5 separate regions of the Homo sapiens genome follow, and all the other regions are linked to region 3. Evidence: fine-mapped expression QTL. A gene starts in region 3. Each other region holds a variant in brackets. All regions are shown on one strand. Distances are between the middles of the regions.

Region 1 (6,126 bases), 56 kb after region 3:
CCCACAGAACCAGTTATGTGCTTACGCCTGTGTCTCTGTCTGTGCTGTTCCCTTCCTGGGCCAGCACCAGGCTGCTGGGCAGCGCCCTTGTTTGCAGTGTGGAAACACCCACTCTGGGGCTGGCACTATCTGTCGAGAATTTAAAAGTGATCATAAATCTGTATGAAAGCTGATGTGCTTTTCGTTATTACCATGCACCAGCAATTCCAGTCAGTGTCGGCCATACATCATCTGTCGTCTGTGTTCTGAATAATGGTTACTGTTGAGTTTTAATAACATAAATGTAAGCTTCAGATTCACACATTCTTATTACTTACCCTTTCGTAAACATTGTGTTTTATGTGGAAACTAATTTGGGGAACCCCCAGTCAATGGCCCTCACGTGCCAACTTGGCTGCATACCCCTGTTCCAAGACCACGTGCACAGCTTGGCATTGCTGGAGGGCGCTGGGCACACCTTGTGTCTCCCGCCTCTGTGGCGCTGTGGGCTCCTGGATGGAAGCAGGAGATGGGAAATAAACATGGATCGCTGAATGCAGTTTCTCTTCTCTGAGTTCGTCTTTTTTTTTTTTTTTTCCCCTGCTTTGAAGTTTTAGACAAGGTCAGTCAGACACTAGGTATTTGCCAGCAGCCAGGGTCAGTGCTGGGCCATGGAAGGGAAGCGGCCCGCTTCTTTCTCATGGCACCTTGAAGACGCGCCAGCGTGAAAGGCCTCTCACCGCGCATGACCATGGGGGCAGGACGTGAGGGCGCGGGTTAGTGTCAAAATAGGAAGAGGAGGCGAGCTTCAAGGACGGCTGGAGAAACCAGAAGGGCATTGTTTGAACACATCTTTCATCAGAAACTGGACTCATGAAGCCATGGGTCAAATCATGGCAGCGTTTGCATCATTCAGCTATTTTTCTGTCATTTTTGTAGAAAATGTAAGATTGCAGAGGTTTTTACCAGTATTATGAAGTTATATCATGAGGATGTGTGCGGTAGTAGAATTTTTCGACAGCAGAGACATTTGAAAGCCATTACAGTTGATCTTGAAGAAACAAAAGCATGGACGGTATTGTATTGTCTGGAATGTGTGTGAAATGCAGTTGTTCTAAAATTCTGCCACACTTTGCCCAGTGGATTTTTACTATTTCTATCCGTTGCCTCATTTGAAAGAAACTTTTTGAAATTAATAGAAAAGCAGTTTAACTCCAAAGAAACATTGACAGATATGACTAGTAACTGTTGAACATGATAAGGATTATGTTCAGGTCATTATGGATCATTGACAAATTGCAGAACATAAGGCTTAAAAATAAACTGTGCTGTTATTCATGAGTGAGATAAATAGGTGGGGTTGTTTCAAAAAATACACTAATGTTAAAAGTGTGACTCCATTATTTTGTTTCTCCTGTGACATGGATTCTTACTGACATGATTATAGATAAAGCTCGGTACACATTTTCACTGCATTTCTCTTCTGCCCATTGTGATTGATCATTCCTGATTTCTGAAAGTAACTGGGTTGTGGGGGAGGGTGGCGTGCGCTGTGCACCCCAGGGGTGGGGTCTGAGTCCTTGCTGCCGCTCCCCCCACTGAGGAGTGCTGCTGTCTGCTCTTGTTTTGAACAGCGCCATCATGACCGGGTCCTATAACAACTTCTTCAGGATGTTTGATAGAGACACGCGGAGGGATGTGACCCTGGAGGCCTCGAGAGAGAGCAGCAAACCGCGCGCCAGCCTCAAACCCCGGAAGGTGTGTACGGGGGGTAAGCGGAGGAAAGACGAGATCAGTGTGGACAGTCTGGACTTCAACAAGAAGATCCTGCACACAGCCTGGCACCCCGTGGACAATGTCATTGCCGTGGCTGCCACCAATAACTTGTACATATTCCAGGACAAAATCAACTAGAGACGCGAACGTGAGGACCAAGTCTTGTCTTGCATAGTTAAGCCGGACATTTTTCTGTCAGAGAAAAGGCATCATTGTCCGCTCCATTAAGAACAGTGACGCACCTGCTACTTCCCTTCACAGACACAGGAGAAAGCCGCCTCCGCTGGAGGCCCGGTGTGGTTCCGCCTCGGCGAGGCGCGAGACAGGCGCTGCTGCTCACGTGGAGACGCTCTCGAAGCAGAGTTGACGGACACTGCTCCCAAAAGGTCATTACTCAGAATAAATGTATTTATTTCAGTCCGAGCCTTCCTTTCCAATTTATAGACCAAAAAATTAACATCCAAGAGAAAAGTTATTGTCAGATACCGCTCTTTCTCCAACTTTCCCTCTTTCTCTGCCATCACACTTGGGCCTTCACTGCAGCGTGGTGTGGCCACCGTCCGTGTCCTCTCGGCCTTCCTCCGAGTCCAGGTGGACTCTGTGGATGTGTGGATGTGGCCCGAGCAGGCTCAGGCGGCCCCACTCACCCACAGCATCCGCCGCCACCCCTTCGGGTGTGAGCGCTCAATAAAAACAACACACTATAAAGTGTTTTTAAATCCAAACAGAAGTATTGTCTTTTTATTTAATTTTATTGCATAGAATGAAGTTATGCAGGGTTCTTCTTTGGAACTAACTGTTTGAGAAATGTGTGTCCTTCTTTGGCAGCGTGGGGGTATGTGTGCAGCATTTCTGTCCCCAAGCTGCTGCCCGCTGTGTTTCTGTAGAAGTAGCCCATC[A/G]GATACACCAGGTAAGGTCTGGGAAAAGCCAGAACCGAGGCCACCTCTGAGAAAGAAAATTGCAAGGAAGAACCAAAATTGCTGCCATCCAGTAAGCCTGGTTTAAAGTAGCTTCAAATTCACTACAGTTGAAGAAATACGTGCTTGCTTTCTAAGGCTTTTGAAAAAGCACTTTGGGGAAAGTATACTTTTTAAACATTGCTAAAATTACATGCATGCTAAATTTCATCCTGCATTTCAAGCCAGCAAAATTAAGCAATTTTAATTACACGATGCCACCAGTACGTTGGTTTATTTTCAAAGTAGGATCTTTGATACCAGAAATCAAGATTTTCCAAGACAAATAATACAGAGCTGTACCAATGCTGAGTGACCAGAGCTTGCTTCCGTGGGATTTAACACACGCCCACTACGTGTCCCCGAGGGGAGTGGGGAGTCGGGCTCCCGTGCCCCTGTGGAGATGGAGGTGTGTGCTGATCCCCCGTCCGCCTGTGGAGATGAAGGTGTGTGTTGATTCCTCCTGCTGCTGTGGAGATGGAGGTGTGTGCTGATCGCCCGTCACCCTGTCTAGATGAAGGTATGTGCTGATTGCCTGTGCCCCTGTGGAGAAGGAGGTGTGTGCTGATCCCCTGTGCCCTGTGGAGATGGAGGTGTGTGCTGCTCCCTCGTGCCCCTGTGGAGATGGAGGTGTGTGCTGATCCCCCATCCCATCCCCCTGTCTAGATGAAGGTGTGTGCTGATTCCTCATGCCCCTGTCTGGATGAAGGTGTGTGCTGATCCCCCGTCCCCCTGTGGAGATGAAGGTGTGTGCTGATCCCCCGTGCCCCTGTGGAGATGAAGGTGCGTGCTGATCCCCCATCTCCCTGTGGAGATGAAGGTGTGTGCTGATCCCCATCCCCCTGTGGAGATGAAGGGATATGCTGATCCCCTGTCCCACTGTGGAGATGAAGGGGTGTGCTGATCCCCCGTCCCCCTGTGGAGATGAAGGTGTGTGCTGATCCCCCATCTCCCTGTGGAGATGAAGGGGTGTGCCAATCCCCCGCGCCCCTGTGGAGATGGAGGCGTGTGCTGATCCCCATCCCCCTGTGGAGATGAAGGTGTGTGCTGATCCCCCATCCCCATGTGGAGATGAAGGGGTGTGTTGATCCCCTGTCCCCCTGTGGAGATGGTGTGTGCTGATCCCCGTCCCCCTGTGGAGATGAAGGTGTGTGCTGATCCCCCATCTCCCTGTGAAGATGAAGGGGTGTGCTGATCCCCCGTGCCCCTGTGGACATGGAGGCGTGTGCTGATCCCCCGTCCCCCTGTGGAGATGAAGGTGTGTGCTGATCCCCCATCCCCATGTGGAGATGAAGGGGTGTGTTGATCCCCCGTCCCCCTGTGGAGATGAAGGTGTGTGCTGATCCCCGTCCCCCTGTGGAGATGAAGGGGTGTGCTGATCCCCCATGCCCTGTGGAGATGGAGGTGTGTGCTGATCCCTCGTGCCCCTGTGGAGATAGAGGTGTGTACTGATCCCCTGTTCCCCTATCTAGATGAAGGTGTGTACTGCTGATCCCCCGTCCCCCTGTGGAGATGAAGGTGTGTGCTGATCCCCCATCCCCCTGTGGAGATGAAGGGGTGTGCTGATCCCCCGTCTTCCTGTGGAGATGAAGGTGTGTGCTGATTCCTCATGCCCCTGTGGAGATGGAGGTGTGTGCTGATCCCCCATCCCCCTGTGGGGATGAAGGTGTGTGCTGATCCCCCATCCCCCTGTGGAGATGAAGGGGTATGCTGATCCCCCGTCCCCCTGTGGAGATGAAGGTGTGTGCTGATCCCCCATCCCCCTGTGGAGATGAAGGGGTATGCTGATCCCCTGTCCCCCTGTGGGGATGAAGGTGTGTGCTGATCTCTTGTCCCCCTGTGGAGATGGAGGTGTGTGCTGATCCCCCATCCCCCTGTGGAGATGAAGATGTGTGCTGATCCCCCGTCCTCCTGTGGAGATGAAGGTGTGTGCTGCTTCCTCGTGCCCCTGTGGAGATGGAGGTGTGTGCTGGTCCCCCGTCCCCCTGTGGAGATGGAGGTGTGTGCTGATCCCCCGTCCCCCTGTGGAGATGGAGGCGTGTGCTGATCCCCCATCCCCCTGTGGAGATGAAGGCGTGTGCTGATCCGCCATCCCACTGTGGAGATGAAGGCGTGTGCTGATCCCCCATCCCCCTGTGGAGATAAAGGTGTGTGCTGATCCCCCATCCCCCTGTGGAGATGAAGGCGTGTGCTGATCCGCCATCCCACTGTGGAGATGAAGGCGTGTGCTGATCCCCCATCCCCCTGTGGAGATGAAGGCGTGTGCTCATCCCCCATCCCCCTGTGGAGATGAAGGCGTGTGCTGATCCGCCATCCCACTGTGGAGATGAAGGTGTGTGCTGATCCCCCATCCCCCTGTGGAGATGAAGGTGTGTGCTGATCCCCGGTCCCCCTGTGGAGATGAAGGTGTGTGCTGATCCCCCGTCCTCCTGTGGAGATGAAGGCGTGTGCTGATCCCCCGTCCCCCTGTGGAGATGAAGGCGTGTGCTGATCCGCCGTCCCCCTGTGGAGATGAAGGCGTGTGCTGATCCGCCATCCCCCTGTGGAGATGAAGGCGTGTGCTCATCCCCCATCCCCCTGTGGAGATGAAGGCGTGTGCTGATCCGCCATCCCACTGTGGAGATGAAGGTGTGTGCTGATCCCCCATCCCCCTGTGGAGATGAAGGCGTGTGCTGATCCCCGGTCCCCCTGTGGAGATGAAGGTGTGTGTTGATCCCCCATCCCCCTGTGGAGGTGAAGGTGTGTGCTGATTACTAATCCACATGGGCAAGAACAGGATGTCCGTCATTACCCTGAATCAATGCTAACACAGTGCCACTTGAGTTCACATTAAGTTAGAAATTGAGAATCTAAAGGTACCTTTATTTTAACTAAAAAATAATTTATATACTGTATATTGATTGTGACACAATTTACAAAGTCTGAGGTGTGGAACAGTTATTTAAGCATTAGTCAACCCTGGTCCTTAAGACAGTTCTAGTAAAATGGGATTGTATATATTTGTTCAACTATTTTGACCAAAAAGTTCAATAAATTTTAAATGTTTAACTGGATTTTCACTGCGTATTTGGACACCCTTTTCCATCTTCCTCTAGAATGTATTTCCCACTAAATAGCCCACCTCCTCCACCCCCAGGGCAGAGCAGAAGGTGCAGCCCAGGCGGGTCCCGTGTGTAGAGGTTCCACGTGGCACTGCTGCTCCCGTGGAACTGCCACTGCCTTGAGGTCTGCGGCGCACGTTCCCTGGAGGTGTCGTCACCTAGCTCTGGGGCGCCTGCGGGGGAAGCCACCTGGCCAGCAGTCCTGTCCGTTTCTGTGGGTTCTCCCCAGTGCAGTCTTGATGTTCTGAGAGGCGCTGGCAATTCCACGCACCTATGTCCGCAAAAAGCAGGATCCATTCACTTTAGAGAAGTGC
Region 2 (6,126 bases), 41 kb after region 3:
CAGACCTGCTCCAGAAAACACGGCAGGCTGCATTCGGCAGACCTGCTCCAGAAAACACGGCAGGCTGCATTCGGCAGACCTGCTCCAGAAAACACGGCAGGCTGCATTCGGCAGACCTGCTCCAGAAAACACGGCAGGCTGCATTCGGCAGACCTGCTCCAGAAAACACGGCAGGCTGCATTCGGCAGACCTGCTCCAGAAAACACGGCAGGCTGCATTCGGCAGACCTGCTCCAGAAAATACGGCAGGCTGTATTTGGCAGACCTGCTCCAGAGAACACGGCAGGCTGCGTTTGGCAGACCTGCTTCAGAAAATACGGCAGGCTGCATTCAGCAGACCTGCTCCAGAAAACACAGCAGGCTACATTCGACAGGCTGAATTCGGCAGACCTGCTCCAGAAAATACGGCAGGCTGCATTCGGCAGGCCTGCTTCAGAAAATACGGCAGGCTGCATTTGACAGACCTGCTCCAGAAAATACAGCAAGGCTGCATTCGGCAGACCTGCTCCAGATGCATACCTAGAAGTGGAGTCGAAGAGTCGGAAATCAAGTTCGTTCTTTTTTTTTTTTTTTTCCCTGAGTTTCATCTGAGATTTTTTTGAGCCAGGATTTTTTAGCTTTAAAAAATATGTATGGTCATTTGATATTCAAATTTATAGTACTGAAATTTTCTCTACACTGTGCTTTGTTCATTAAAACAGCTCTCATGTTTCCTTGCAGAATAAAAGCCGCCCTCATTCTAGGGGAGAATATAATGTTTACAGCACCTTTCAAAGTCATGAACCGGAGTTTGACTATTTGAAAAGTCTAGAAATTGAGGAAAAAATTAATAAAATTAGGTGGTTACCACAACAGAATGCTGCTCATTTTCTACTGTCTACAAATGGTAAGAATTGTGTTCTAAGTGGCTGTTTGATTTAGTTTTTTATTTTTAATTTTCTGTGTGTGTGTAGATTCCTTTTTATTTTAGAAGTTATTCCTGCTTTAAATTTTGGGGGGAGGGTAAGTTATCTAGGGTAGCAAGTGATAGGTTGAAAATTCAAAGTATGCAACAAAAACCACACGTGCACTTTATTATGCTGTTACTCTGCACGTCTGCACATCTTTCTTTATTGTACAAAACACCTCCAATTGGAAATATTCATGTTCAGAGACCCCATAGCTTATAACCCAATATAGGACCACACCGCTTTCTAATACCAGTACTCAAACAGTAGTGATGCATGTTATAGTTTTTCTTTTCATATGGAGAATGAGGTTTTTATTTTCAGATAAAACTATAAAATTATGGAAAATAAGTGAACGGGATAAAAGAGCAGAAGGTTATAACCTGAAAGACGAAGATGGAAGACTTCGAGACCCATTTAGGATCACGGCGCTACGGGTACACGTTGCCTTTGCTTTATCCAATGCTGTTGAGAAGTTAAGAATAAACGTTTCAGTCTGCTGTCTGGAGAGTGCTGCGCGGTGGAGTACTGTGAGGTCTGCTGTGAGGTCTGCCTCGTGATTCCTGAAAGTCGTTTGCACTCATGTGTGTGTTTAAAAGCAAGGTCTTTCTCCTGTTTTCACAAAGGCAGAAAGTCACATGTGGTCCTTAGGAAACACAGCAATACTAAGGGGAAAACTCATATTTAATTCTACAGCAGAAATCTTTGTGGACATAGCAACCACCCTTCTCTCAGAAGGTTCAGAACAGCACCTGGGAGGTTGGAGTTCAGATGAAATTCAGAACACCTCACAGGTGCAGTAGCACAGGTTGCAGGTCGAAAGATGAGCTGTGGGCCACAGGTACATTCAGGACGCTTCTCGGGGAATTTCTTTGGGGTTGGTTTAGGCAGATGCTGATGGTTCAGAACTCTCCACCTGTCCATCCATGAGCATCATTACTTTTTTAATTGTTAAATTATTTGCTCCATTGTTGGTAGTATGAAATGATCATATTTCATCAATTCTGATGCCTAAATTTTTTCATATTTTAACATTTATGAAACCGGCTAAAACTCAAAACCTCAATGTCTTATAATTGGCCTGGTGCTACGCACCACTGATGTTGTCTTAAATTAGATGGAACATGGTGAAGGGTGTCCGGCAAACTGGGCTCGAGCCCAGGTGTGTCTTGGTGAGAAACCAGCACCTGTGCAGAGGTGTGTCCCCTGGAAGGAAACTCTGCCTGGTCCCAAGGGGGTGCCGTTACTAGATTGGAAAACCGTTGGTTGTTTGGGTGGTTGGGTGGTTTGGTTGCGGGGGGTGGGTGGTTGAGTTGGGTGGTTTGGTTGGTTTTTAATGAGATTTCAGCCCCTTTTACACTATTGTTTATCAAGTGAAGACTGAGTGAGTGAGCCCATTCCACATTAGTCTTGGAGAGTGCTACAGAGGACGCTGTACCGCAGAAGCCTTTCCCTAACACATGTGCCTCTGGGAGTGATGTTGGGTCTGTTCTGATGCCATTTCTCCAGCTTTGCCGTGTGGGGTGGCTACACCTGGGGTTGTGCATTCCTCAGGAGGAGTGTCCTCAGACTTCTCACATCGATGTTGTCACCGTATTTCCTATGAGTTCATCAAAGCGAGAAAGGCTGTGGCATTTGCTGAAAATCTAGTTTATAGGGTCCTAATTTGAACCAAGATGTTTTGATCCAAAATGTTGGTGATGTCTGATACACAGTGCTGCCGCCTTTGCACCCCTGAATTAGTGTAAATCACTTTTAGTGACAGTAACACGAGTTGTGCAGTTCCATCATCATGAAACTGCTGATCCTAAAGTAGAAGTGTGATGGGACCCCC[G/A]AGGGTGGGCACTTGACCCCCTCCAGCCTTGTCCATCTCTTCTGCAGCCAACACCACCTCCCACCCAGTTACCTGTGCACACCCCACCCTCAGAAACCCCTGTTCCTCCTGATCAGACCCTGCCACAACCCATCAGCTCACGTGCTCATTTTGGGAGAACAGTAGGCCTTTACTAGGCCCAGTCTTGGTTTTATTCAAGGCTGCTTTTGTAGGTTTAGCCTAAATAAAACGGGTATAATTGGTGGCCCTACTGAAGGTGTGTGAGAAGTCTAGTTATTTCATTAGTTGGTGCATGGGGAAGAGACCACAGACAGGTAATTCTGTACATTGACTTAGGTCGGTATTTGAGATCTTACCTCTCTAACAGTTCAGAGTGGGCTATTTATGTATCTGAGCCTAACTGGGTAAGAGTCAGACATGTTGCTGTTTTTAAATTTTTGCTCTTAAATTATTTTAGTGCCAGAAAAGGGATATAATTAAAAGAAGAAATCTTGGCCAGGTATGGTGGCTCATACCTGTAATCCCAGCACTTTGGGAGACCGAGATGGGAGGATCACTTGAGCCCAGGAGTTCAAAGACCAGCCTGGGCAACATAGCCAGACCCCATCTCTAAAAATGAAAGCAAATTATTTTATATGCAAATTAAAATGTTTTCAATAAAAGAAGGAATCTTTGTAAGTATTGCAGCTATCATATGTTTTGATTAATGGGAAATTTGTTAGAGGATTGGGGTAGGTGTGTGTTTTTAAGCCTGAACTTGGTAGAACTGACTCTTCTTGCTCTAGAGAATCCAAGGGTGTGGTCAGCACTACCTGGGTTAAAATGAGGGAAGCCTCCCTACACACACTTTTCCAAGTTGGTTTTTTACAGAATTCAGCCAGACAAGACTCAGTTGAGAGCTTTTCTTTTTCCCCTAAGCTTTCAAGGCTCTCCCTTTTGGTTTCTAATTACAAGAATAACAAAAAATACTATCATTAATTTTTTGTTTTGATTTTAAAGCTTATGTTTTTCTTCCAGCTGGATGTTAGTGAGACACAGGCCTTTTTCCTTTTTTCATGTGTGATGCTATTCCTCACGCCTGAGCTCTCACCTCTGACCATAGGCGGCCTGCAGCCAGCGCCCACTCCTCTCTGTCCTTTCTATTTCTGTGCGAATTGGGCTTCCCTAGGAAGCCTCCCTGACCACAGCACTCAACACAGAGATGGGGGCGGGAGGTACCTTCTACTTTTTGTTTTAACCTCAAGTGAAGTGTAATATATAATACATACCTCCAGATAAGACATCTGCCCTATAAGTGACCAGCTCCATGAATGTTTGTAGGGTGCACATGCCCATGTAGCCAGCCCCAGACCAAGAAATGGAATATCCTCAGCTCCCCAGCACCCTGCTGTGCACCCTGCCAGTACCTGGAGCCAGTGGAGGTTTGTGGGGTTTGCACCGAGAAGCATAGTCCTAGTGCAGTGAGAAGAGGTGTGTGCATCTAGCTGCAAGGAGAGGACAAAGGGAGGGGTGCAGCTGAGCCACCCAGGAGGACTTTGCTGTCCAGCGCCTCAGTGTGGCCACTGGAGGACACACAGGAGAGGGAGCCGCAGGCCTCGGTGCCTGGGCAGTTTGTTACCCTGCCAGCTGATCTTCTCTTCAGCAGGAACATGTCGACCTCGGTAATGGAAGCAAGGGGAAGACTTGGAATAGACAGTATTCCATTTTGTAGCATATTTTCATAACTCTGCTAATTGGTTATTTGGGGGTATTGCCTGTACAGAATTATTACTTAGCCATGAATATAAACTTGTCCTCTTTCGTTATCTACTATAAGTGTTCTAATTATGTGCTGCTGTGATCTTTGTTTTGAATTCCTATTTCCTTCCATTTTTAGGTCCCAATATTGAAGCCCATGGATCTTATGGTAGAAGCGAGTCCACGGCGAATTTTTGCAAATGCTCACACATATCATATAAATTCCATTTCAGTAAATAGTGATCATGAAACATATCTTTCTGCAGATGACCTGAGAATTAATTTATGGCACTTAGAAATCACAGATAGAAGCTTTAGTATCCTTCCTCAGAGGGACACTGGCGTCTTCCCGAGGGTGCTCTTTAGATAGTAATTTCTCTCGTCCCTTTATACACCTGTATCTCGGAGTCTAGTCTTGTAAATACCATCACTGCACAGCAGCCTGTGATGTAAGTTCTCTGTGATTTGAAATGTTTGTCCCTAAAAATACAAATTTCTTTCTACCTTTGGGAAAAAGTTATCTGTATAATGGGAATTACCTGAAGTCCACTGCCTGCCTGGTTTAATCAGAGGCAGTTTTAAATAGGCTACATTTGAAAAACCAACATTATGTGTTCTTTTTTTTTTTCTAAATTTGCTAATGAATAATAGAAAATACTGGCTTAGGTTAGAGCAGTGTTTAATCACCCATCTGAGCAGCAGCTTCCAGTTAGAACCTGTGTTCTTCTGTGGCTGTGCACAGTCTGGGTGGCCCCAGCCCTCCTCACATGGGCCCCTTTCCAGCCAGCAGCCGGGAGCATGGGGCTTGCTTCGTCTGCAGCCTCTCCAGGGTCCCTGCCGTCCTCCCTCTGCTGTCCAGTGGCTTGAGCTGGGGTTCCATGTCGTATGTTGGTTTTCTTAGTTGTTTCAGCTTGAAGGGTGAAACTGGGACTGCTAGTCTGAATTGGCCCACAGCTGAATTCTGCCCTTTCTTATTTTTTTCAGTTGAAGGATTTCTGTATAGGATTTCTGTTGGATCTGTTCTAGCTACACAGAATAAGCTCTTCATGTCAGGAAGAGCAGCATCTTTTGGAATTTGGCGGCATTCTTGTGTTGTAGTTTTGTGTGGGAGTGTGGGATTTTGCACAGATGGTACTAGCTTGGTTTTCCTATTTATATGATTAAGTATGTACTATCTTGCTATTAAGGGCTTTCTGTATAACATTAATAATAGCAGCAAGATGAAAGCGGTGTTCGCTTGTCTGTGTCTCCCCCTGGGCCGGGGCGTTGCTGTAGTCTGAGTGTGCTCATCCCAATCCCCTTACCAGGCGCTCCTTTGGAATTCGGGATGTGTAACCAGCCTTCTTAATAGCTAATCCCTTAAACCTCACTGCGTGGATTATTTGGCGTCCTATTTCGCGTGACTGAATGTAGACTAATTAACAACCAGCTGAGCTGAGCACTGTGCCTTAACCATGCACTCCCAGACATCGTGGACATCAAGCCTGCTAACATGGAGGAGCTGACCGAAGTCATCACTGCAGCCGAGTTCCACCCGCACCAGTGCAACGTGTTCGTCTACAGCAGTAGCAAAGGGACCATCCGCCTGTGTGACATGCGCTCCTCGGCC
Region 3 (6,126 bases):
CGCCATGTTAGCCAGGCTGATCTCGAACTCCTGACCTCAGGTAACCTGCCAGACTTGGCCTCCCAAAGTGCTGGGATTACAGTCGTAATATATTCAAATGTTTAGTCTCCCCGACAGAGTGAGATTGGGTCCTATGTTACATAATACACGTGTCAGGAGCCCCTTCCTGAGTATTCATAGCTCCTCCCAAAGCCTGTTGTCTATGTATGTTTAGCCAACCCGTTCAGCATAGAGCTCCTGCCCCAACTCCTCCTCCTACGAAGAGCCATCTCCCATCTTGGCCTGGGGGATGGCCACCTTGCTGGCTGTAACCATTTATAAGAAATAAAGTTCCTCTTTTTCTAAATTTATAAATTGTCAGGTTTTTAAGTTAACAAATAAAAGAGATCTGGTCATTAATTCAGGTTTTCAAGTGTCTTCCTGGGCAGATAGGCTAAATCTACATTTTAAAAACAAGATTACAGCCCCATTTTTCTGCTCTTCTTCTCCTCAACAGAGAAGTAGGTATTCACTGCCTCTAGTTCCTCTCCTGCCACTGTCCCCAGAGCCCTCTGCAAACTTGTGATCTGAGTCCATTCCATAGCCACCGCTCCGTCCAAGTCAGTAATGGCCTCCCAGTCCCTACAACCAAATGGTCACTCCTGTATACTCATCACATAGCATCACAGAGCAGCCACTCCCTCCTGTCTTCAGTGGATCCTGGAGATGGGTTCTCCAGGAGCCCACCTCGCAGGCTGCTCACTCATCCTCCACGTCCTCACCCCTTCAGGGCTCTGTCCTTGGTCCTGTCCCCCATCTGTCCTCCCTCCTGAGGTGACCTCACCCAGTTTCCTGACTTGAAATGACCTCTAAATGCTCTCACCTTGATGCTCTGGCTCTGACTTCCCTGTGTGCTCCCAGCCTGTCTGTGCAACAGCACTATGTGTTGACAGCGAACCTCTGGTCGGGCTGCACCGCCCCCACCCAGCTGTGCCTTCTGCTGCAGAAACTCCATCCTTCCAGGTGCTCAGACCACCCGAGAGCAGGCATTCCTAAGTCCCTGCTTTCTCTCACACCGCATCTTTTCCATCAGCAAATCCCAGGGGCTCTGCTGTCGAAGCACTTTTCTCTGAAATCTGACTGGTTCTCACCACCCCACCCCATGTTCACCACTCTATCCTCATCCCCATGCCTGGTCAGCCCAGCTGGCCACCTGATTGGTCTCCCTGCTTCCCCTCTTTGGGTCCCCACAAGCTATTCTCAGCAGAGCATCCAAAAGCCCAAGTCCATCACGATCGTCTTCTGTTCATGAGCCCATCTCATTCAGAGTCCAAGTCCCCTAAATGGCCTGCCCACTGTCCATCCTCCTCCACTTACCTCCCTGCCTTGACTCCAACCCCTGGCCTCCCCTCCACTCACTCTGCACCCACGCAGCTTCTGGCTGCCTCCTGCCCATGCCAGGCATGGCCCTCCTTCCTGTCCTGGCACTTGGTGGTCTCCCCTTCCTGGCCAAGCTTTCCTAGACGTCTGCATGGTTTGCTCTTTATCCTTGAGTCTTCTCCAGTCACCCCGTGCAAGACTCCAACTCTCCCCATACACATTTCCTTCTTCCCTGATTTTTCTCTCCAGCTCCGACTTATTATGTATTTATTTCCTTATTGTCTGTCTCCCCCACTGAAAGGTAAGCTCTACCAGGGCTGAGATTTCTCTGCTCTGTTAACCTCTCACCCCCAGGGCTGTGGAGTGTGCCGCACGTGGCAGGAGCTGTCAATAAATAATATTAATGGAGTGGACGAATGTTCCTGATTTGCAGCGACTGTCTTTTAGTGGTGCAATACCATCAGTGCCCACCGCAGCTACCCTGAAAGAAGTTCTGATTCCGGACATCAATCCCATAGGGACAGTCCCCCTGATGATAGCTCGACTTCAGATTTTTCAACTTTACGACGGGTAGATTGGGTATTAGATGCATTTTTGACTTAGGAAGGGCTTATTTGCGGGGAGGGTAGCCCCACTGTAAGTCGAGGAGCACCCATGATCGCTCAGTATGCCAGAGAAAACCACCCGCAAATGAAACGATCGGCCCTGTTTCCCTAAGACTGCACTGGGAGCTCCAAGAACCCCTAAGGTAGCCATCTGGTGAGCAACGGTGCGCTCCGAAAGGGAGGTGGACAGGATTGGGAGACCGAGGCCGGCAGATGGCTCGAGCCCAGGAGTTCGAGACCAGCCTGAGCAACATAGACCCCCGTCTCTACAAAAAATTTAAAAATCAGCGAGCCTGGCGGCGCGTGCCTGTGCTCGCAGCTACTTCCGAGGCTGAAGCAGTAGGATGGATTGAGCCCAGGAGGTCGAGGCTTTTAGGGAGTCGAGATCGCGCCCCCGCACTCCAGCCCGGGGAACAGAGCGAGACTCCGCGTCGGGGGCAGTGGGCGGGAGGCAGCGCTCAGGTACGGCGCGCTCAGGTGAGGCCGGCCCACATGCCCGCCCACCGCCGCCAAGCGCGTCCTCCATTGGCGGTTCCACGGAGAACCCACGTTTCCATTGGCCGATGCGGGATGGGGGCGTGTCCGGCCAAGCGGCGCCCTGAAGGCGTGTCCGGCCGCAGCTTAGGCTCTCCGGGAGTCCCCGGAGAGTAGGGGCGGCCGGCGGCGCTAGTCTTCTGGGGAGCGCCGGGTGCACACCGGACCACTGCGGGAGGCCTAGGGCCGAGGGCCGAGGAGCTGGCCTGCGCCCGGCGACCCCGGCTTCCCTCCGCAGTCGCCCAGGCGTCCCTTCCCCCCTACAGCCGAGCGGCGCCGGGCGCAGGCGCATTGGGCGCCCCCGGCAGCCCCCGCGGCCCGCCCCGTCCGCTGCCCGTCCGAGGAGGCGGAGGGCGATGACGTCATCGAGCGGGGCGACGGGCATTGGGCGCCATTTTGAAAAGGGAAAAAAATCCCTCCCCGGCGGCGGCGGCGGCGGCGGCGGCGCCGGCGGTGGTGGCGGCCCCGGGGCTGAGCGCTCGGCTGCAGCGGCGCGGAGGCCGTCTCCCTGGTCTGCCGCGGTCCCCGCCCGTCCCGCCGCCGGCTGCCATGGCAGGTGAGGGGTCTGCGCGGGCCGGCGGGGACCACGGGGGCGGGCGGGGGCCGCGGCCGGCCTGACCGCCCCGTTGTGTTTGCAGGAGCCGGAGGCGGCGGCTGCCCCGCGGGCGGCAACGACTTCCAGTGGTGCTTCTCGCAGGTCAAGGGGGCCATCGACGAGGACGTGGCCGAAGGTGAGCCCCGCGCCGCGCCCCGCCCCGGGACCCTCGCGGACAGCTCCCAGCCCGGCCGCGCGCGGCCTCCGGGCCCCAAGCGTCCGTGGAAGGCAGGCAGGAGGATGGGGGCCGGGCGGGGCAGGGGCCAGGGGCCGAGCTGGGGGCCGTGATCGGGGGGCGGCCGTCCTCTGTCCGCTGTCCCGGCCCGCGGGGCACGGGCGGAGGCGTCGGGCCCGCGGCGGGACTTATGTAAGTCACCAAGGTCACGGGCGGCCGGGTCCTCCGAACCCAGCGCCTGGGGCTGCCTCCTGCCCGGGGCGGAACCGAAGCCCGGGGCTGCCTCCTGCCTGGGGCGGAACTGAGGAGACCGCGGCGGAGCCGGGGACGGGAACGGAGTCCATATCGTGCGCTCGGGCAGCGCGGCACAATGGCCCAGAGGCTGGGAACGCGCCTAGGGCTGGGTCGGGGCCTCGGCCCCCACCAGGCTCTGCGTTTCATCGGCGGTGCGCTCTTGAGCGAGCTGGTTGCCTCGGCTCCCTGATTCTTAAGGTCTGCTTTCTGCGGTTCTAAAATCCTTGAATTTTACTGTGAGGTACTGCTACTTTCTCTACTGATATATTTTAAGGTCTCTATTCCAGATTTTAGTCTTGAACTTCATGGTATTACTTGAAGTTCACTGGTCTTTTCCTTAAATCATACTCTCAAATTGGCCCAGGCACAAAGTTTTAGGGTGGTGGGAGGGAACTGGGAAGTGCCTCCCACCCCAGCTTCCCATGAAGCTTACCTGTCACCTTAAAGTTAAAAAGCTATGTAGCTTTCCTTTTTCACCGTTGAATGGAGAACTTGGTCGAGTCTTAGAAGTTTGATTAATATTTCAGATTCAGAGTCATAGTGACTTTTTTGTTGTTGTTCATACATCTTACTGAACATTGTAAACCTTTAACCTTTTCTTAAAAATGATTGGTGTTTGCACCAAATACACCTTCCCTGCCTCAAGTTACTAAAAGCCCCTTGTCAGACGTCCTGTTCACTTCCCTCCATCTCGGCCCCCCCAACCCCGTGAACTTTTACTCCCTCTTCCCTACCCTGTACCTCTCCCTGGCAGTGTCTGGTTTGGCACATGACCCCTGAGGACATCTGGAGATTCTGCGCCCCCTGGGACAAACAGGGCCTAGGTTATTAAGCAGGTGAAACTGGGCTCTAAGAAATGCGTAATATATATGGTTTGAGATTAAAACTAGGTGCATTTTATGTGATCTAAAAAGTTTATTGATTTTATTTCTTTAAAATGCATTACTTTTTTTGTTTGATTTTGCATATGCTAAGCAAGTGACAGTTCAGCCTTACTCAAGTGTGATTTCTGTCGCAAGTAAAGCAAAACTTGTTTGGGAGTAGGAAAGTGAGAGGGCTTAATGCTTGCCTTAATTTCTGTTAACTCTTTATTTTGTTTTTTGGAGACAGGGTCTCACTTTGTAGCCCAGGCTGGATGGAGTGCAGTGGTGCGATCTGGGCTCACTGCAACCTCTGCCTCCTAGGCTCAAGCGATTCGCCCACCTCAGTCTCTGAAGTAGCTAGGACCACACACACGCGTGCACCACCACACCAGGCTAATTTTTGTATTGTTGTAGGGGATTTCGCCATGTTGCCCAGGCTGGTCTTGAACTCCTGGGCTCAAGTGGTCTGCCCACGTCAGTCTCCCAAGGTGCTGAGATTATAGGCGTGAGCCACCGCACCTGCCTGGTTTCTTTACTTAAAAAAAAAAAAATTATTGATAAGCTGAATGAATTAAAATTTAAGTATAACTAAGGTAGTATATTTTAAATGTGACTGTACACATATGAAAATAGTATTCTTTCTTTAAAAAAAATCTTGGGCCGGGTGTTGTGGCTCATGCCTATAATTCCAGCACTTTGGGAGGCCAAGGTGGACAGATCACTTGAGGTCAGGAGTTTGAGACCAGCCTGGCCAACACAGTGAAACCCCGTCTCTGCTAAAAATACAGAAGTTAGCCGGGCGTGGTGGCACATGCATGTAATCCCAGCTACCTGGGAGGCTGAGGCAGGAGAATCACTTGAACCCGGGTGGTGGAGGTTGCAGTGAGTGGAGATCGTGCCATTGCCCTCCAGCCTGGACAATAGAACAAGGCTCCATCTCAAAAAAAAAAAAAAAAAAAAAAAATCTTGACAAATACTTTGTTCTCTGAATTAAACTGATGGGAACTTTTTGCAGTTTTAAATCCCTATTTTAAGTTAAATTTTGAGTAAATCCAAAAGTTTGGTATTTCGAGTTGTCGTGGTTTCTTTTGTAACATTGCTTTGTGGTAATTATCTGCATGTGTTTTGGTTATTCTGTGTATTCAGAGCTGTCTATTTTAATCCATGTATGCTTTGGCCATAGTAACCCATCCAGATTAACACATTTATAAGTCACCATCGATTTGTCCCATAGTTGTGATACCGTTGCTTTGTATTAACACCAGAGAGTCAGTGATGATGAAGGGAAGTGTAGTCGTTAGTCACCAGGGATTGCTGAGCAGCAAGGATCAAGAAGCTGGTCATGCCCAAACGCAACCTTGAGGGAGAGATGTTGGTGAGAGATAAGAGATGGGTGGCTGGGTACGGTGACTCACACCTGTAACCCCAGCACTCTGGGAGGCTGAGGCGGGTGGATCACTTGAGGTCAGGAGTTTGAGACTAGCCTGGCCAATATGGCGAAACCCCATCTCTACTAAAAATACAAAAATTAGCCAGGCGTGGCAGGGCCGGCCTGTAATTCCAGCTCCTCAGGAGACTGAGACAGGAGGATTGCTTAAACCTGGGAGGTGGAGGTTGCAGTGAGGCGAGATGGTGCCATTGCACTCCAGCCTGGGCGTCAGAGCGAGACTCCGTCTCAAAAAAAAAAAAAAAAGGAGAGAG
Region 4 (6,126 bases), 33 kb after region 3:
CTTTCTTTCCACTCTGCCCTTTGGAGGAGATCTGAAGGTTTTGATGATTACTGTTGCCCTTTGGATTTCACATGGCACTTTCTCCTCCTCTTTCCTTCTTTAGCATATTCTTCCTCTCCTGGGGGCCCCACTGGGTGTCCTGGCTGAGACCAGCCCAGGTGTCCTGCCCCACTCACCCGCAGGGGCTTGCTACCTTGAGCACGCAGGGTCCCACGTCCAGCATCCCTCTCCTCTCCCCTCCATCAGGCGGGGATGATGATAGCCCTGCTTCCTGGGGCTCTTAGAGGCCTGGCTACGTTAGTACAGGGCTTGTGCGTGGTTAGGATAGCACCTGGCTCCTAGTAAGCATTCAGCCAAACCCTGGTACTGTAGCGGCTGGTAGTAGTCAGCAGATCTCCAGAACATGATTCGGGCTTTCCCGTCTCTCTTTGTTCAGATTCCATCCTTGTTTTTGTTTTTTTGTTATTTTTTACTGAGATGGAATCTTGCTTTGTTGCCCAGGCTGGAGTGCAGTGGCGTGATCTCAGCTTCCTGCAATCCCCACCTCCCTGGTTCAAGCGATTCTCCTGCCTCAGCCTCCCGAGTAGCTGTGATTATAGATACACACCACCATGCCTAGCTGATTTTTGTATTTTTAGTAGAGATGGGGCTTTGCCATGTTGGCCAGGCTGGTCTCGAACTCCTGACCTCAGGTGATCCACCCGCCTTGGCCTCCCAAAGTGCTGGGATTACAGGCATGAGCCACTGCGCCTGGCCCCACCCATCTTTGTTTTGGTGACTTCTTGAGGCTCTGCAGGTCGTGGCTGTTGGTTTCTATTTCTGAGTGTAGCGAGGCTGCTGTTTCTGTGGGCCTGGGCTTTTCAGCTGGCAGCTTCACTGTGGTTGGCCATGTCCTTGTAAAACCCAAATGTTTGAATATTGAGGCCCTTTCCCCAGGGCTGGAGTATTTCGGAGGGCACCCCTGGGGATGGCGGCCGGTAGCCAGTGTCTGAGGAACAAGAAACTGTGTGCTCCCACCTGGCAGGGTGAATGGGGGGCGACCTGGGGACCAAGCAGCTCTGTGAAGACTTTCTGCATCTCTGTGCCAGCCCCTTGCTGCCCCCACGTTTGTTAAAGCTGCTCACATAGATGCTTTTTCTGCTTTCTTCTGACACCTGGGCGGGGGTGGGAGGGTAAAGGAGATGAACACACACGCATGGCCCACCATGTTCGGCGGGAGGTCTGAGAGGACTCGGGGTGGCTGCGGACACTTTGCGGATTTGATGGGACCCGGATGTTGAATGAGGATTGCACAGCCAGACAGCCAGCTGGCAGCAGTGCCACGGCAGGTGGAGTGTGACATGGCAGTGGGGCCTGTCTGGCTGAGAAGAGACCCGATGTCTCCATGGGATGGCCAGGAGGTGCCAGGCTGTACCGTGGGCAGAAGCACTCCCCTACCCCAGCAGGGAAATGGAGGCAGAACGCAGCCATGGTGAAGTTTATGGTAGTTTAAAATACCTAACTCACTTTGGGAAGCTGAGGCAAGTTGATCACTTGAGACTGAAGCGGGCTGATGACGTGAGGCCAGGAATTCGAGACAATTCTGGTCAACATGGCAAAACCCTGTCTCTACTAAAAATACAAAAATTAGCTGGGTGTGGTGGTGCACGCCTGTAATCCCGGCGACGCAGGAGGCTGAGACATGAGAATCACTTGCACCCTGGAGATGGAGGTTGCGGTGAGCCAAGATCGCGCCACTGTACTCCAGCCTGTCTCAAAAAAAAAAAAAAAAAAAAAACACACAAAAAAAACCTAACTTGGTGCCTTTAGTACCATATTTATGCCTTCAGCATCAGTCTGGTTTTTAAAAACTGTCTCCATCAGATTAATTTGATGTTGATAATTTAAACGTTGTTGGTTTTGTAATTTTGTGTATTTAGTTTGGGTTTAGAGATTGAGCACTGCAGTGTTTCTAATTTTAGGTTCACGCGTGTTTGTGTAGCTTAATGAAACTTCCCAGCACCGACAGTTACAGGAGTTTCTCTTTTAAAAGACTCAGTCCATTATAATTAAGTTTGAAAATCACTGACAGAGCTAGAATACAATTAATTATGTAATTTTATACACCCTCTGGGTATAAATGACATAGATTTAGACCTTTTTAATCCAATACATAATATTTTAGTTTCATTTAAGCAAGTTAGGTTATTTTCAGTAATTTAATAGTGACGCTTCTAAGAAACAACCTAATCCTTCTTCCAAAGTCTGAAGATTTTGAAAAGAAAGAACTCCCAGGCCAGGGATTCCCGTGTGAGGCCAGCGAACAGTGCCAGCCGCGGGAGCTTGCTGTGTAGATGTTGGTGGAAATCCTTCACTAACACGATTAAAACGCCTTTGCAGACCTGTCAGAATTGCATTCTAGCCACTTTTGGAGGGAGCTGTTTGAGTCACTTCAGCTTTAGGGCCCATTTCTTCTTAGTAGGTTGTTTACAATAGCCATTTAGTTGTTTTTTTACTTCCTACTATAAACGTACCGTGGGCCCTGGGTGTGCCCAGGTCACTGCGAGCCCTTGAGTTGGTGCCCAGCAGGGAGGCGAGCTTGTAGTGTTCTAGCTGTTCCTGAGACTCCCCCACACTGCAGGGTAAGGCGAGGAGTCCCACTGTGGCCATAGGACAAGCTCTGATGGCCCCTCGGGAGGCCACGCCAGGCCTTATCCTCAGTCCGCACGCGACACAGCAGCACTGCGGAGAAGCCAGCCTCCTCCAGAGTCTGTCATGGAACTCCCCCTGAAAACAGAAAATCTTTGTCCAAGTCACAGACCTGGGATTTTTTTTTTTTAATTTAATAGTTGGTCATAAATCCAGACACTCCCTTCCCAACCCGAAGGGTTAGCCTCAGGACACCTGAGGACTTTCTCACTGCTTAGTGGTGGTGTTCCTTCTGCCCCGGGGTCTTGGCCTCTGTTGAGCTGGTGTCTGGGGTCTTTGTTATGCTGTCAGAGATCTCAAGGCCTCCCTGACAGTTGTCTCACTTGGTAATGATGTCATCATTATCAGTGGTGGTAACTGTATCCAGACAATGACATGGAACTTCTACTGTCTAGAATATTACATTGTACAGAAGCCAACAAAAGTTATTGCATAGAATATTAACAACATTTTTATTACTATTATATAAGAATCAGATTTATTTTAAAAGTTAACATTAGGTATGCATTATAAAATTAGGCAACATTCTTCAGGACCCATTTTTTTCCTCTATTTTTTTCTTTTACAGATGAATTTTCTAAATTTCTACCCTTTATCCTTTTATCAAGACAACCTAGTCTAGATAAATCCTGGTGCTCCAGGGGCCCAGGCATGGGGGTGGAGTAAAACTCGCCCATTCACCTGTGCCGGCAGGTTCTCTGCACCAGAACCAATAAGTGGCCACTTGGTAATTACAAGTTTGCCAAGACAGTTTTGCTTTAGTCTCGGAGAAAGTTGTATATGTTTATCGTCCTTTTGCTCTTTTTTATTAATTTTTTGGTATTGTGACTCCTCCCCAAAACCGCATCCGGTAAATCGCTTCTGTATTTTGTTGACAGCGGACATCATTTCCACCGTTGAGTTTAATTACTCTGGAGATCTTCTTGCAACAGGAGACAAGGGCGGCAGAGTTGTTATTTTTCAGCGTGAACAAGAGGTCAGTAATTTTCAGTCCACAAATCAAATGCAATTATTCAACCTTTCGCATATAACTTAGA[A/G]GGGAGGAAGCAAAATTATTTTCTCATTGTCTCATTTCATTAAGATTCAGTTCCATCACATTAGCCATACAGAATCTCCTTTCAGAAATTATCTAAGTTCTGGCCTCAGCTGCTGAGCCCCGGTGAAGTCTCCAAGGCCTTTGTCTTCAGAGTAGGGAGGAGATTCCGCTGGGGACCCCATGAAGGATGCAGGGTGGTGGTGAGGTGCATTTATGTGCTTTCATTCCATAAGAACTCACGCGGCTCTCTCTGAAAATCCCTTTATACGCCTATGCAGGTACTGGCCCAGCCCCGCCGTCCTGCCCTGCCATGAAGTGTGAGCAGCTTTCTCAGCACTTCCTGCAGAGAAGTCTGGCAGGGGTGTGAATTCTCTCTTCCCTTCAGGGAGAGGTGAGCAGCACTCACTCCTCCATGCCCCCTTGAAGGCTTCACCTGTCTGGAGGGAAGGGAACCTTCAGAGTGTGGGCCTTGGAGGAGCCCACAGCTCATAAGCAAGCACTGGCTTCCCGGTCACGGCACTGCCTTTTCACTGATGCCTTGCCAGCCCCCTCCCTCTTCTTTCTGTTGAGCCTCCTCAGAGGTCCTAATGAGCAGTGATAAAGGAAGCAAGATCATGATTTGGTAGTCAAGGATTCCTGGCAAGAACCCTGGCTCTGTGCAGCTAAGCCTGGGGTCTGAAATATTTGTCCTGCCTTTTCCTTATAAATACAGTCCCTTGCCCTTCCTGTCTCTGAGTTTCCTAACAGATGAAAGGGACAGTTTATCATCTCCAAAGTCTGGTCTCTAAATTTGTGTGACGAACTTTGGTTTAGAGGTTGGTGGGCCCTGGTTCCCCTCTCTGCAGATCTGTACACAGGAAGTGCTGGCCCTGCCCCCCAGGAAGGGGAGCCTGGAGGAGGACTGTCCCTGGGCCACATGAGGAAAATTGACAGGTGCTAACCAATTTCATTATCAAAACATACCTGTTGCAGCTTTATTTTGATTATGTCCAGGTAGTTAAAGATTTTTTTAAATCCTGTTTTCTCTGATTTGGGATGGTAAGAAATCCTTTTGTGAATAATAAGTATATCGTTAATATTTCTTCACAGTTTGATACATTTATAATTTTGCATTTTTATCTCAGAAGTAGAATATCACACAATGCTACTTAAGAACCATATACCTTGGCCAGGCGCAGTGGCTCACGCCTGTAATCCCAGCAATTTGGGAGGCCGAGGTGGGCTGATCACCTGAGGTCGGAAGTTCAAGACTAGCCTGACCAACATGGAGAAACCCTGTCTCTACGAAAAATACAAAATTAGCCGGGTGTGGTGGCACATGCCTGTAATCCCAGCTACTTGGGAGGCTGAGGCAGGAGAATCGCTTGAACCCAGGAGGCAGAGGTTGCGGTGAGCCAAGATCGTGCCATTGCACTCCAGCCTGGGCAACAAGAGTGAGACTTCATCTCAAAAAAAAAAAGAACCATACACCTTACCTTTCTCAACAGAAGTAAAAGTGGGTTGTGGTGTTTAAATGTTACTTTTAAAGCAGGAGGAGTTTTTGTTTTTTTGAGATGGAGTCTTGCTCTGTCACCTGGGCTGGAGTGCAATGGCGTGATCTTGGCTCACTGCAACCTCTGTCTCCCGGGTTTAAGTGGTTCGCCCTGACTCAGCCTCCCAAGTCGCTGGGATTACAGGCATGCACCACCACGACCAGCTAATTTTTGTATTTTAGTAGCGATGGGGTTTCACCGTTGGCCAGGTTGGTCTTGAACTCCTGACCTCAGGTGATCCGCCCACCTCGGCCTCCCAAAGTGCTGGGATTACAGGCATGGGCCACCACGCCTGGCCAGCAGGAGGATTTTTTAACAAATTGTTGAGTCATGGCTATCTTAATGCAAGACTTCACTTTTAGCTTATTTAAAAAGTCTGTCATTGTAGCGATAGCCTTAGGGAAGATGCCTCATCCCTGCCTAACAGATTTTAGGTTAGAAAATGGAATTTCTCTTGTTTTTGTGAATCGTTGCTTAACCTAAATAATAATAGTCTCAAATATAAAACAAACCCTGATAAAAGTCAAGCATCTCGTTCTAAAAGATATTGGGTATTATAGAGTGTTAAGTGCTTTTTTAAGATGAAGTTGTTATGTGAGTGACAGATTTATACAGGAGCAAGTCCCTACTGAAGTTGTTCAGCCAGCTGCAACTTGACAAACCCCAGGCAGCCTTTTTTCTTTTTCTTCGTATTTCGGTTCACGTCTGAAAGGCTTTCACGGTCCATCCATTTTAGAGCATTCGGCTGGTTGCCCCATGTGCCCTTCCCTGTGGACTTGAGTGTGTCTGTGGGTAAGGGCGGCAGTGCACGTGTTCATCCATGGCCGGAGGCCGCGGATGGTGTTGCAGCCGCCAAGAGGGTGAAGCTGC
Region 5 (6,126 bases), 95 kb after region 3:
GCACTCCAGCCTAGGCAACAGAGCGAGACCTGTTTCTTCACACACACACACACACACACACACACACACACACACACGAGGAAGCAATCTAGAATGTCCAAAAGCAGAAGCAGATTCAGGCTTCGTAAGACCTTAAAATTATGCAATTTTAAAACCAGCTTTATTGAGATGTAATTAATGTACAAAACCCGCTCATATTTAAAGTTACAATTTGATGAAATTTACATCTGTAGACACCACAAGACCGTCAGGATAATGAACATGCCCGTTATCTCCAAAAGGTTCCTCATCTGGCTGCTTCCACTCAGTGTAATGACTTTGGGATTCGTCGGTGATGCATGCATTCATCAGTAGTCGGTTCCTCTTTATGGCTGAGCAGCATCCGTTGTATGGATGTGCCACCATTTGTTTACTGTTCACCTGTTGGACATTTGGGATGTTTTCAGTTCTTGCCGCTGGCAAATCGAGCTGCTGGGAACGTTCACATTCATGTGCCAGCGTTTGTATCGACATGTTCTTTCATTTCTTGCAGGTAAATGCCATGGAGTGCAGCGGCTGGGTCGTATGGGGAGGGTGTGCTTAGCTTTTTAAGGAGCTGCCATCGTGTTCTCCAAAGTGCTCGCACATGTTACTTTCCCAGCAGCAGGAGAGTGCCAGTGGCTGAACACCCACGCCAACTGTGGTTTAGCCGGGCTTTTTAATTGTAGCCATTCTAATGGGTGTGTGCTGCCGTCTCGTGATTTTAACTTGCATTTCCCTATCGTGACATCTTTTCATAAACCCACAAACTTTGCTTGCCATTTGTATATCTTCCTTAGTGAAGTGTCAGTTCAAATCTTTCGCCTAGTTTTTAACTGGGTTGTGTTATTTAGTTCTGAGTTCTGTGTTTATTCTGGATACAAGTCCTTCTGTCAGATATGTGTTTGCAAATATTTACACCTAGTCTATGGTTTGCCTTTTCATAAGTGTCTTTGGAAAAACAAAGTTTTCAATTTTTACAAAGTCCAATTTATTGATTTCCTTAATAGTTCATGCTTCTTGTGTCCTAGTATATTAGTTTTCTGTAGCTGCTATAACAAATTACCACAAAGTTATTCTCTCACAGTTCTTGAGGCCAGAAGTTCAACATCAGTTTCACTGGGCAGAAACCAAGGTGCCAGCAGGGCTGCACTCCCTCCAGAGGCTCCAGGGGAAATTTTTTTTTGAGACAGGGCTTCACTCTGTCATCCAGGCTGGAGTGCAGTGGCACAGTCACAGCTGGCTCACTGCAGCCTTGACCTCCCGGGCTCAAGCAATCCTCCCACCTCAGCCTCCCAAGTAGCTGGAAATACAAGTGCATGTCACCCCATCCAGCTAAATTTTGTATTTTTTTTAGACCTGGGATTTCCCCATGTTGCCCAGGCTACTCTTGAACTCCTGGGCGCAAGTGATCTGCCGATCTAGGCCTTCTGGAGTGCTGGGATTATAGGCGTGAGCCACCCCTGGTGCCAGCATAGAAGGGGTAGTGCTTGTGCTTCATGCTCCACCTCGATGGCCATGGTTTACCTGCAGGACTGGCTGACTCTGCTGTCCTGGCCATGTGGCTGCTCTTTGTTCCTGCCCAGTTCTCAAATCTGGGCCCTCCCAGCCACCTGTGAGCCCTCCAACACTGTCAGCAAAGGTGTTTTCCAATTCCATCAGCCAGAGCTGGTCTCTATTACTTGCAACTCAGAAGCTTTCCTGATAAAGCATGTTTACCAGAAGTCCATCGTGAGCACCGTGCTTGGCTGTGAAATATGAGTGGCATTTCCATTTCAGTGGGCAGCAGGCCAGTGGCTGTCATCAGCACCCCTGCTACTCAGCTGTGTTCTGAGGGGCTTAGGCCATGCCCTAAGGCAGGATGGAGAAATGAAGTTTTTCAAATACCAAACAGACACACTGTCTCTATTGCCCACTATCATCCCCACCGTATGTAAGCTCCATGAGGGTATGGATCCTTGTCTTTTAGGGTCACTGCTGTACATTGAGCACCTAGAACCATGCCTGGTATATAGCAGGTATTCTGTTAACATTTGCTGAATATAAATTCACAAAGAATAGTAAAATTGTTCACCTAAAAAATCCAAGAAAATCAACTGAAAAACTATTTGACAAATAAGAATGCAATAAAGTATGTGTTGAGAGGTGAGCATGTATAAATCAGTAGCTTTCTTATATGCTGGTGATGACCATTTTAGAGATGAACACCACCTCATTTGTAAGAGCAACAACAACAAAATCTAAGAATAAATTTAAGAAGAAATGTTCAAGGAAAGGCTTGTGCCTGTCATCCCAGTTACTCAGGAGGCTGAAGTGGGAGGATCTCTTAAGCCCAGGAGTTTGAAACCAGCCTGGACAATATAAAGAGACCTCATCTCTTAAAAAAGTAAAAAATAAAAGTTTTTTTAATTTTAAAAAAAGATTTGGGAGGCTGAGGTGGGAAGATCCCTTGAGGCCAGGAGTTCGAGACCAGCCTAGGCAACGTGGCAAAAACTCATCTATACAAAAAATTAGGTGGGCATAGTGGCAGGTGCCTGTGGTCCCAGCTACCTGGAGGCCGAGGTCAGAGGATCACCTGAGCCTGGGAGGTCGAGGCTGCAGTGAGCCAAGATCGTACCACTGCACTCCAGCCTGGGCAACAGAGTGAGAGAGTGAGACCCCTGTCTCAAAAAAAGAAAAATGTTCAAGACTCAAGACACGTACAAAGAAAATCATAAAACTTTATGTTAAAATATAACAGACACTATTCAGGGCCCCCAGATCCTACCCAGGACTGCACCCAAGCTGACCGGGTCTTCTCTAAAAACAGAAAAAGAAGCCATTACTAAGGATTATAAGACATAGCGTGTTCTTAAAGGACAAAACTGATCATAACGGTGATCATAAAGACAGCTCAGCTTCTCCTTTGCCTTATCTGGGCCCCACAATGTTCTGAGCACTTGCCATTGAATGACCCGTTTAACACTGTCCAGGACTCATGCAGGCAGGAATTATACTGTTCTTTTTTTACAGAGTGGCGCATCCGTTTTATTGAGGTAAAATGGATTTTTGTACATTCACTCCATGACTGAACTGAAAAGATATCCACCACCCACATAATAGGCAAAGGATTAGTAACGGAATATGCAAATGGATCTAAAAATCACAGTAAATGTACAAACAACACAATCTTTTTTTTTGTTTGTTTTTGAGACAGGGTCTGGTTCTGTCGCCCAGGCTGGAATGCAGTGGTGTGATCTCAGCTCACTGCAACCTCGTTCTCCTGGGCTCAAGCAGCCATCCCACCTCAGCTACCTGAGTAGTTGGGACTACAGGTGCACCCCTCTGTGCCCAGCTAATTTTTTTTTCTTTCTTTCTTTCTTTTTTTTTTTTTGTAGAGACAGGGTCCCACCATTTTGCCCAGGCTGGTCTCAAACTCCTGAGCCAAGTGATCCACCTGCCTCAGCCTCCCAAAGCACTGGGATGACAGGCGTGAGCCACCATACCCGGCCCCAGCAGTACAATCTGGTAAGTCGAAAAAGAACTGGCACCTCATGAAAACAGAGAAATGGCCAATGAACTGAAAAGACGCGCAGCCTTAGCAGCCGCAGGGACGTCATGCTGAAGCAATGAAGCCCTTCCTCCTCTCCGGCTGTGCTCACTGCTGGGAACTGGCAGCTC[A/G]GGGGTCTCGGTCCTGCCTGCTTCCCCTCCACGGCCCCTCGCTGCCTGTAGCTCCTCACGCCTTAGTCCAGCTCCATCTGCTCATTCCCTGGAGTGCACCCTCAGCTGCCTTGTCCCTCTCACCCAGTTGGCCAAGCCCAGCTGGGCACCGGGCCTGCACCCAAGCTGCCAGGAGTGGAAAGAGAGGAGACACAGCCATGTGGATTGGTTTCATTTTAAATTCATGGCCACCAGCTCAAGTGGACACTTGTTGACTGCTACATTTCCCCAGCCTGGTACCACCCAAACATGTCCTCGTGTCCTGGCACACAGAGAGGGCAGAGCTGGGATCACACTGCCTGCCCCTCTAAATGAAAGGTTGCTGAGCAGAGCGGGAAGCTGCACCTTTGCAGGCAGGTCAAGGACCTGGCTTCTGGGACCCAGGGGGACCCCATGTGAAGGGGAGTGGGGCTGGGCTTGTCTAGAATCTGCCTGAAGTGGGGACCTGGAAGAGTGAAACTGAAGGAGGCTGGAAGTATTCACCCGAAGGCAGAGAGACTCCAGACCCCGAAAAAGTGGCCCAAGAGGGACAGTCAGCTTTGGTCACCTGGGAGCCCAAGCAGTGTGTAGGCAGCAAAGACCCCCGGCCCTTGCCGCTGGCCTTTGGGCTGTCCCCAGAGGGTCAGGAGCTACAACTGGAGAGGAAGTGGGCAGAGCCCAGGCTGGAGCAGGAGGCATTTCAACTCAGAGTAAAGTTGGGAGTTTTGATGGTTACACCGGCCAGGACACAAAAATTACTTCAGTGAGACCAAATCGAAAATGGGCATGAAAACGGGGCCAGATTTTCACCCGGTGGTGGGTGTGGGGTGGGGAAGAACACTGGGGGAAGGAACAATACAAGTGATTTGTTTCTCTTCTATTAATAACTCGCAAAGCTGCAAAAGTGGGTGGGGGCTTATTCAAATGAATGTAATTCTTCTGTTACCTTCAAACATCAGTGACACTATATGCACAGGGGACCATCAGGGGGCGGGCGCTGGAGGGGTAATTCTTCCACCTCTGTGGCACCCAGCTGTGCGCCTGCAGACTGATCTGTCTCCCTCCCTCTTGCAGGAAAACACTTTTCTATGAATTCACAATGATATTTGTACTATGCTGGGGCTATTGTTAGGAGTTGGTATGATGAAATATTCCGCATTGTAAACAGTGTGCACACAAACATGTCTCGAGTGTGTACTTGTACTTTGCTGGTGAGTGGAAAGCAGAGGGTGATCTTTGAAAAGAGGCTGGACTGCTTGCTGGAAAACCTTCAAAACAGGAAGCAGCCACTAGATTCAAGTCACATTCCTGCCGGAGGCTAGACGTGATCCCCCAGGCCGGAATCCCAGCAGTGCTGGGCGGGCGTGTTTATTTGTCCTTGGGTACATGAAGCAATAGCTCCGTTGCTCCTCCGTGAGAGATTGCAGAATGTTCTGGCTGGAATAACCAGTCAAGGTAGTGTCAGAAGACAGAGTTACAGCAGATCTAGTTTAGAGGCCTTCATTGGCTTGCGTTTGCTCTTCTAGAATGGGCAACACCTCGTTCGATAAAATAGAGAAAAGGGCCGAGGAAAGCAGAAACCAGAACAGAAAGCTGATTGGTCTTTTCACAGTTAAAGGTTTAAGCAGAGGGCTTCCCTACTGTGCTAGCTGAAACTGGCCTGTTTGGGGATTTGGCTACGATCTCCTTCTCTCCTGATTTCTTAGAAGCTCAAACAATTTTCTCTTGGTGGTGTGGAAACTCAGCGCAAACAACCCTGTTTGGGTTTGGTCTGTTGGGCTTAGTGCGGGAGCCCTGCCCAAAGCCAGTGCCTCCTGTCAATTTCACTGCACACTGACATGGGACCAACATGCCTAACACTCGTCTGTCCCGTGGACCCTGTCTCTTTCATTTTTTTATTTTTAGTTTTTAGAGACAGGGTCTTGCTCTGTCTCCTAGGCTGGAGCGCAGTGGTGCAATCACAGGTCACTGCAGCCCTGACCTCCTGGGCTCAAGGGATCCCCTCTTCTCAGCTTCCCAAGGAGCTGGGACTGCAGGCATGTGCCACCAGGCCTGGCTAATTTTTTATTTTTTGTAGAAACAAGTTCTCACTATATTGCCCAGGCTGATCTCAAACTCCTGGCCTCAAGTGATCCTCCCACCTAGGCCTCCCGAAATGTTGGTATTACAGGCATGAGCCGCTACACCCGGCTCTGTCTCTTTCAAAGCACAAGTCCACAGTTTTGCTGACACGTGGTGGCGATGGGGAAAGGTCAGCAGGGAGTAGAGAAGAGAACACAGGCTTTTGCCACTGTGTGAGGTGGCAGTGGGAGAGTCTGCAGATAGCAGGGGAGCAGAAAGCAGGGGACAGCTAGGGCTGGTATCTGGGCTCTGCTACTAAGAAGCTGTGTCACTTGGAGAAGCGACTCACCTCTGTGAAGGTCCCCATCT

Which allele goes with the higher level. Positions count from the first base shown, and alleles are read on the strand shown. Sizes are in standard deviations (SD) of each study's normalised expression. Not every link is listed here.
For the expression in whole blood of the gene that starts at base 2,907 in region 3, A is the low allele of the variant in region 5 and G is the other (small effect, 0.36 SD a copy in Lepik 2017).

The links. PIP is the estimated chance that this variant, and not a neighbour inherited with it, causes the effect.
Region 1: its variant is the best candidate, but not a certain one, in a credible set for the expression of PPP2R2D in vagina (GTEx, PIP 0.54).
Region 2: its variant is the best candidate, but not a certain one, in a credible set for the expression of PPP2R2D in Th1/17 cells (Schmiedel 2018, PIP 0.68).
Region 4: its variant is the best candidate, but not a certain one, in a credible set for the expression of PPP2R2D in whole blood (INTERVAL, PIP 0.71).
Region 5: its variant is the best candidate, but not a certain one, in a credible set for the expression of PPP2R2D in whole blood (Lepik 2017, PIP 0.69).

The regions. Positions count from the first base shown.
Region 1 is chr10:131,954,071-131,960,196 of GRCh38, forward strand. It overlaps PPP2R2D (protein phosphatase 2 regulatory subunit Bdelta), which reads left to right. Exons shown (of 9, transcript NM_018461.5): 9 at 1,614-5,764. The coding sequence ends at 1,893. Among named protein-coding and RNA genes, the nearest start is that of BNIP3, 25 kb to the right of the region's middle. The variant A/G (reference allele first, on the strand shown) is at 2,655.
Region 2 is chr10:131,939,312-131,945,437 of GRCh38, forward strand. It overlaps PPP2R2D (protein phosphatase 2 regulatory subunit Bdelta), which reads left to right. Exons shown (of 9, transcript NM_018461.5): 4 at 720-885; 5 at 1,271-1,383; 6 at 4,657-4,834; 7 at 5,984-6,126. Among named protein-coding and RNA genes, the nearest start is that of BNIP3, 40 kb to the right of the region's middle. RefSeq lists an enhancer at 5,644-6,126. The variant G/A (reference allele first, on the strand shown) is at 2,781.
Region 3 is chr10:131,898,102-131,904,227 of GRCh38, forward strand. It overlaps PPP2R2D (protein phosphatase 2 regulatory subunit Bdelta), which reads left to right and starts at 2,907. Exons shown (of 9, transcript NM_018461.5): 1 at 2,907-3,054; 2 at 3,137-3,229. The coding sequence starts at 3,048. RefSeq lists an enhancer at 2,167-2,266 and silencers at 2,507-3,016, 3,087-3,486, 3,667-3,716.
Region 4 is chr10:131,930,892-131,937,017 of GRCh38, forward strand. It overlaps PPP2R2D (protein phosphatase 2 regulatory subunit Bdelta), which reads left to right. Exons shown (of 9, transcript NM_018461.5): 3 at 3,567-3,664. Among named protein-coding and RNA genes, the nearest start is that of PPP2R2D, 33 kb to the left of the region's middle. RefSeq lists an enhancer at 3,470-4,669. The variant A/G (reference allele first, on the strand shown) is at 3,726.
Region 5 is chr10:131,992,847-131,998,972 of GRCh38, forward strand. LOC124902525 (a long non-coding RNA gene) reads left to right here and starts at 3,495. Exons shown (of 2, transcript XR_007062339.1): 1 at 3,495-3,525. RefSeq lists an enhancer at 3,184-4,170. The variant A/G (reference allele first, on the strand shown) is at 3,679.